Linked DNA regions of Homo sapiens. The protein of the gene in region 1 purifies or fractionates together with the protein of each later gene. This does not show direct contact. Each region holds a gene or a part of one and is shown in the gene's direction. Other genes may lie near its edges.

The links. Proteins that work in one complex are often made in the same cells at the same time.
Region 2: the proteins of PSMA1 (region 1) and PSMG4 purify together in Homo sapiens (affinity purification with mass spectrometry; 4 studies listed by BioGRID and IntAct, with this or other methods). This does not show direct contact.

What each region holds. Positions count from the first base shown.
Region 1 is NC_000011.10:14,513,887-14,517,513, reverse strand, and holds part of PSMA1 (proteasome subunit alpha type-1), read left to right. Parts: intron 1-3,022; coding exon 3,023-3,111; coding exon of another isoform or gene 3,112-3,161; exon of another isoform or gene 3,162-3,604; intron 3,605-3,626; coding exon 3,627-3,627. UniProt on the Homo sapiens protein: Component of the 20S core proteasome complex involved in the proteolytic degradation of most intracellular proteins. This complex plays numerous essential roles within the cell by associating with different regulatory particles.
Region 2 is NC_000006.12:3,265,175-3,268,603, forward strand, and holds the end of PSMG4 (proteasome assembly chaperone 4), read left to right. Parts: exon of another isoform or gene 1-2,416; coding exon 2,417-2,538; 3' UTR 2,539-2,875; downstream 2,876-3,429. UniProt on the Homo sapiens protein: Chaperone protein which promotes assembly of the 20S proteasome.

The sequences.
Region 1 (3,627 bases):
TTGGTGGTTTTGAGTTTGTTATTAAATTTTCCATTTTTTGATCCCTGTAGGAGTAACTAATAAGATTAAACATTAGCACTTTTCAGAAGTCACTGAGTAATGTGATGTTTGTTAATACAATGTATATCGTTTGAGACCCTGTTATGTCTAAGAAGAACGTGATACTTTTGTCTGGTTTCTAAGGACAAGCTGAACCACACTTGTTTTCTTTGTGCTTGTTTTCTTCAATACATCAGTATTTATTAGACATTTATTTTTTGCAATGCTCAATACTGGATACTGCAGGGTATACATAAGTGACTCAGACATGGATCTTGTCTTAAGGGAACTTGAAGGCAAGTTTATCTATAAACTCAAATGTAGTTTATCTATAATATAACAGAAAAATTTCTGTGAGAGTCTAGAAGAGACAGATTATTTATGGTTAAAAGGCAATACATAAATGAAGAGATAGGGCTTTGAAATTGCACATATTGAGTTCTCACCTTCACCACTTAGTATCTGAGATTTGGCTAAATACCTAAACACTGAATTTTTTCCAGTGTTTTCTTTATCAAGGCTATTTTTAAATGTTATTTATTTATTTTTTTGAGATGGAGTCTCACTCTCACCCAGGCTGGAGTGCAGTGGTGTGATCTCAGCTCACTGCAACCTCTACCTCCCAGGTTCAAGCGATTCTCCTGCCTCAGCCTCCCGAGTAGCTGGGATTACAGGCACCCGCCACCACGCCTGGCTAATTTTTGTATTTTTAGTAGAGACGGGGTTTCGCCATGTTGGCCAGGCTAGTCTTGAACTCCTGACCTCAGGTAATCTGCCCACCTCAGCCTCCCAAAGTGCTGGGATTATAGGTGTGAGCCACTGCACCCAGCCTATTTTTAAATATTTTAAATTGCCTACTGTAAACCACTAACACAGAGCCTTTCAGGTATTATGTGAGTATGTGTGTTGTGGATGGCAGGTAGTTAGCTAAAACTAATCTTGTAAATTTGTGATTTGATTAGGAAAGAAAGAATATAAATTATAAGGGTGGGCCTGGCACAGTGGCTCCTACCTATAATTCTAGCTCTTTGAGAAGCTTAAGGTCAAGAATTTGAGACCAGGGCAACATAGTGAATCCCCATCTCTACAAAAAATTTTAAAACTTAGCTGGGTGTGGTGGCACACACCTGTTGTCCTAGCTACTCAAAAGGCTGAGGTGGGAGGATTGCTTGAGCCTAGGATTTCAAGGTTGCAGTGAGCTATGATAGTGCCACTGTACTCTAGCGTAGGCAACAGAGTGAGACCCTATTCTTTTTTTTTTTTTTGAGACGGAGTCTCGCGCTGTCGCCCAGGCTAGAGTGCAGTGGTATGATCTCGGCTCACTGCAACCTCCGCCTCCAGAGTTCAAGGAATTCTTCTGCCTCAGCCTCCCGAGTAGCTGGGACTACAAGCATGTGCCACCACACCCGGCTAATTTTTGCATTTTTAGTAGAGACGAGGTTTCACCATATTGGCCAGGCTGGTCTAGAGCTCCTGACCTCGTGATCCACCTGCCTCGGCCTCCCAAAGTGCTGGGATTACAGGCGTGAGCCACAGCACCTAGCCGAGTGAGACCCTATTCTTAAAACAACAGCAGCAGCAAAAACAGTGTAAATAGTAATGCTATGGTTTAAGAATTTCAGGCTGAGCATGGTGTCTCATGCCTGTAATCCCAGCACTCTGGGAGGCTGAAGCGGGTGGATCACCTGAGGTCCGGAGTTCAAGACCAGCCTGGCCAACATGGTGAAACCCTGTCTCTACTAAAAATAAAAAAATTAGCTGAACGTGGTGGCAGGCACCTGTAATCCCAGCTACTTGGGAGGCTGAGGCAAGAGAATCGCTTGAACCCAGGAGGCAGAGGTTGCAGTGAGCTGAGATCATGCCATTGCACTCCAGCCTGGGCAACAAGAGCGAAACTCAGTATTAAAAAAAAAAAAAAAGAATTTCAATTTACTCAGCCAGTCCCTTGCTCTAAGTCAGCAATATAATGACAGCCTTAAGGGTTTCCACCTACTCTTCAAAATGGAAAATGTATTATATTATCAAACATTTTATTTAACCCAATCTATAAAATATTGCCATGCCAACACATAATCAATATAAAAACTTTATTAATGAGTTATTGCACGTTTTTAGGTACTAAGTCTTTGAAATTTGGTATGTTATTTTGTACTTGGTGTACATCTCAATTCAGTCTAGCTACTTTTCAAGAGCTCCATAGCCACATGTGATTATTGCCTGCCATATTGGGCAGTATACTTTTAGGCAGCATTGGGAAATGGACTTAAATATAAGTACTGAACAAATAGCTTGGTTCCTGTAGTCAACCATGTGATGATCAGATGTGACATACGCATATACTGGACAAAGCAACATTGAGAAAAAGGAGCATATCCATTTCTTGTTTATCTTATTTATAGGCATAAATTCTCTTCTCCCCAATGTTAACCTTGCTTGAATTTCATCAGATTTAACAGTGAGACTCAGCGGCTAGTGTCCAGTATCTCCTCTAGAGTGCTTCTTATGAATAGAAGTAACAGTGGCAGAAACACGTAAAGATCCCCCCTGCTGTGTTTTCCATTTCTTATATTTGCTCTTTTGGAGAAATGTTAGTCTGCTTTCAAGAAAAAAGGACAGAGTAGATAATCTTTTTGCTGGTTCGAGATCTAGAATTACGACAAGCTTGCTGACAGTGGGAAGGATAAGAGAAGAGAGGTTGCTGTTTTTCTTTTGTTCAGCCTTCTCTTCTCTGTTCCATAAGTGCTCTGATACAAAGATTTTCTAGAGCTAAAAAATGTTTCAGTCTTTTTTAAAAACCTTATGTGGCTCCAGAGTTTAGCACAAAAACGCACCCTTGCAGGCATGTCTTTCTTACCTTCTGTTTTTCTTATATGGATGTTATCCATGTAAACGCTTGGAAGAATTTGAAGTGAAATCAAACAATTTAGATTGGAATAGTTGTCTATAATTTGAAATTACTAAACTTTTTTTGTTTCTTTTTTAGTAATTTTATGCGTCAGGAGTGTTTGGATTCCAGATTTGTATTCGATAGACCACTGCCTGTGTCTCGTCTTGTATCTCTAATTGGAAGCAGTATCCTTTTTATGTTAGCATTTATGGATATGAACTTTGAAGGGTTTTGATACTTGTGTTAATTATTAGGAATATAATAATAATATGACATAGGTAAGATTGTGAAAACTTTAAAACAACAAATTGGATTGCTCTTTCATTAGCCTTTATAAGCAATTTATATTTGCTAGACACAAATAAGCCCAACTTCAGGAAAATCATCTAAGCATCTTTTTAGAGGGGATTTAAAGTTTCTTAATGGTTCTAGATGTCCCAAGAAATCCTAGACCCCTTGTATCCAAAACAAATCAGGTTTTAGATGGGAAGAAATTATTTTGCTGGCACTCTTTCTTAGGTTCGGTAGAAAGTCAAACATTTTATATTAGGCCAAAGAAATAGTGTCCTATTGCATTATTTCTCTGGTGGATTATGCAACAATTAAAGAATAAGCCAGAGACCTTTGTTAATAATGTATAATTTGAAAATAAAGACAGTACTTCATTCCTTGTTAAAACAAGCTCGTTAACCAGTCTAAGA
Region 2 (3,429 bases), on another chromosome or scaffold:
CGGCGTCTCTTAAGGGAATGGTGCTGCAGAGCTCGGACCAAGAAGGTTTTCCAGCAAAGTCCCATGCTTTGCCAGTTGCCTTGAGCCTGGGTCTGGGCCCTCAAGTTGAAAATGCACTATAATGAAAAGGGAGAGGTGTCCTGAATCAGTATCTTATATGAGAGATGAAAGCAGGTAGGGAAAGAGAAGGCCTGGGGGGTTCTCAGTAGCTCTGGAAGCATCGCAGGAGTTGGTGTGGCCAAGGGGACCCAACCTCCTATGGCCCTGGAGGGGCACAGCTTGGGTCTGAGGGGCTCAGTGCCTCCAGACACAGCGTTGTTCCTCAGAAATCCTGTCTCTGCAGTTAGAACAGTTGGAATACCAGGGGGGCCCCCTTAGGGTAAAGGGGGATGTTCCTGCCCCTGGGATATAGGGCAGGGTGTGACTTACAGGCTCCTCCTAGGCAGCCTTGGTGAGCCCCAGCTTCCTACCACACTGCCTGCCTTTAGATCACCCTCTACATGAGTGGTCCCAGCCTGCCTAACACAGCTAGGAAAGGATGAGGTTGGTCCCTAATGGTGGGGGAAGCCTAAGAGGCTTCCTCACTCCCCGCAGGGCTGAGCAGATAACTGGGCACAACTCTCCGCCTCGGGGGCACACTGCACCCAGCACACTGGTGGGAGGCTCTGTGCTAAGTACTGTAAGCTGTTCTTTAAACACCAGCTCTTGGAATAACCGAACAGCTGCCTTTGTCCGGACACATTCCTTTTTTTTTTTTTTTAATAAAAAAACAGCTTTACCGAGACGTAAACACATGTCATACAATTCAGCAGCTGTCCTCAGGCAGAGGCTGTGCTTGCCGCCGCCTTGCTTTTTCATAGGTGTGTTGGCTGCTTTGTAAGGACAGTCAGTGAGTTAATACCCAAGACCTTTCCAGCCCTAAAAATCACGCAGCCTTGTACAGCGGAAAAACAGGCTTTTGGGGTCCTGGGCTCTCCCTCTCCTCAATTTCCAAACAAAGCTGGGAGAGGTTTCCAGGCCACGGTGGGGCCTGGGCCTGCGCCTGCACCTGCGCCCCTGAGCCACACTGCCTCTCAGGGTTCTTGGTGGGACCATAGCTCAGATGGCAGCAACTGAAAGGACAGAACTGCTGCCCAGATGAGATCCCATGACGTGTGTTCTAAATCGGCCTTTAGTAATGGTGCAGGTGGCCTGGTGCCCTCAGCCTCACCGCACCACCCTTTTGCCTTTTGGTGATGAGGCTAAGTACATGCTTGCCATATGTTGAGGTGGGGGTGGGTCAGTGCCTCTCCAGGGGTGAGTAGTTCTGCACTGGCCCTGCGTATGGGTGAGGCTAAAGGAGGAGGCCGCGCAGTGGGGCAGGCAACATCCAACTGCTTTAGCCTTTTTGCCCACGTATTTTCAGGATATTGGCTTTCAGATTCCAGGTGTATGACTCTGCTTGATTTTTGCAGTTGGCCCAATGTGCACCTCAGCCATTTTCTATTGATTCTGTAGAAGGGGACTAAAACTTACATTCAGTAGAAAATTACGTGTGTGTCCATATGCCTATCTGTGCACACACACACAAATATATTTGTGTGTATACACATATATGCAAATGCATGGAAACGTAGGAGGGAGGGAAGTGGAACTGGTTGGGGTGGGGTGGTGCTGAAGGAGAACTTTAATATTTTATTTTAAATACTTATTTTTTTTTGAGACGGAGTCTTGCTCTATTGCCCAGGCTGGAGTGCAGTGGCGCGATCTTGGCTCACTGCAAGCTCCGCCTCCCGGGTTCACGCCATTCTCCTGCCTCAGCCTCCCGAGTAGCTGGGACTACAGGCGCCCGCCACCATGCCCGGCTAATTTTTTGTATTTTTAGTAGAGACGGGGTTTCAACGTGTTAGCCAGGATGGTCTCGATCTCCTGACCTTATGATCCACCCGTCTCGGCCTCCCAAAGTGCTGGGATTATGGGCGTGAGCCACCGCTCCCGGCCATTTTTTGTGTTTAAATTTTTTTTTTTTTTTTTAAATCAAAACACCAGAAACCCCTCTGTGTAGGGCAGAGGTTCTTAAGCAGTGCGGGGCACCTGCAGGATCTGTTCCAGCAGACAGCTGGCCCCAAATCCTGGCTTTCTGGGTCAGGAGGGCTGGGTGGGGCCCAGCAGCTGCCTCTCGAACAAGTTCCAGGGAGGCTGCTGAGGTGGGGCCTGCCCTTCAGAACCCTGGGTCTGGTGGAGAGACTGGGAGAGGCCTGAGTGACTCGTCTGCATTTGCAGCACCTGTCTGAAGAGAGGCATGGAGATTAGAGCTTTCTTTTCTCCCTACAACCCCATCCTCTTTCTGAGCATTTCCCAGCTGCACGTGGCTGTGAGGAACACGGGGCCTGCAGTATTTCAGGAGTGGCTGTATCAATGTGTTTTCTCTTTTTAGCCAGGAAGACCAACAAACAGGTGTTTGTCAGCTATAACCTTCAGAACACAGACAGTAACTTCGCATTACTTGTAGAAAACAGGATCAAGGAAGAGATGGAGGCTTTCCCCGAAAAGTTCTAGCTGAGTGGCAGAAGTGAGAATTTGTAAACTTATGTACAATGTACGTGTAAATAAATGGATTGAATTTCAGTTTGTCATCAGGCCGCGCTCCCGTTTTGTTTTTAAGGGGTTAATCTTTTGAGCTTCCTTCTCAGCAGTGTGTGGGCCAAAAGGCTCATACTGACCCACCTGGTGAAGGAGAGGCAAAGTGGGCAGTATATACTTCCTCATTTGGCTGTGAGTGATAGAGGGATGAAATGGGATTTTTGTTGGGATTGAAGACTGTAATCTAAGAGTTTCAATCAGACATGACTGTGACGTGCATCCTCAATTAGAATTAAAGTGATGTATAAATATGCTTTAGATTTGTGTGTGCATTCCTCAGAATTCTGCCTTGTGAATTGATGCATTTATCTCCTCATTGCAGTGAAACCCCAGGGCACGTCTCTTCTTGCTGTGTTCTCCCTAAACCCCTCCTCTGGGCACTCCTTTTTTGCTGTGTTCTCTCTTGGGCCTACATTTGAGCACCTCCCTACACTGCCCCATTACTGCATTTGCGGTCTTGTGAAGTCTGACTTCTCTAGGCTTTGTCTCCTCATCTATAAAGTTGGAGTAATCCCCACCTTGGTGGGTTCTTTTTAGGATTAAGCACGTAGGTAGAAATGCTTTGCAAACTATAAGTGCCGTGGCACTTAGATGTCAATTATAGTTTGATTTCCTTCCTTTTTATGGATTCAGAGGCTTCAGGTCCTTCTTTCTCTTCCTGTTATTTCATCGTCTTCCCTTCTCCCCTCTCTTCTATCCCAAATCCAGAGTACCTCAGGTACCTGCTTTGGTCATTTGTACTCTTTAGCGTTTAATCTTTAATCCCACCACTTGGAGTGGGTTCCAGTCTTGGGCCTTCTCCAGAGG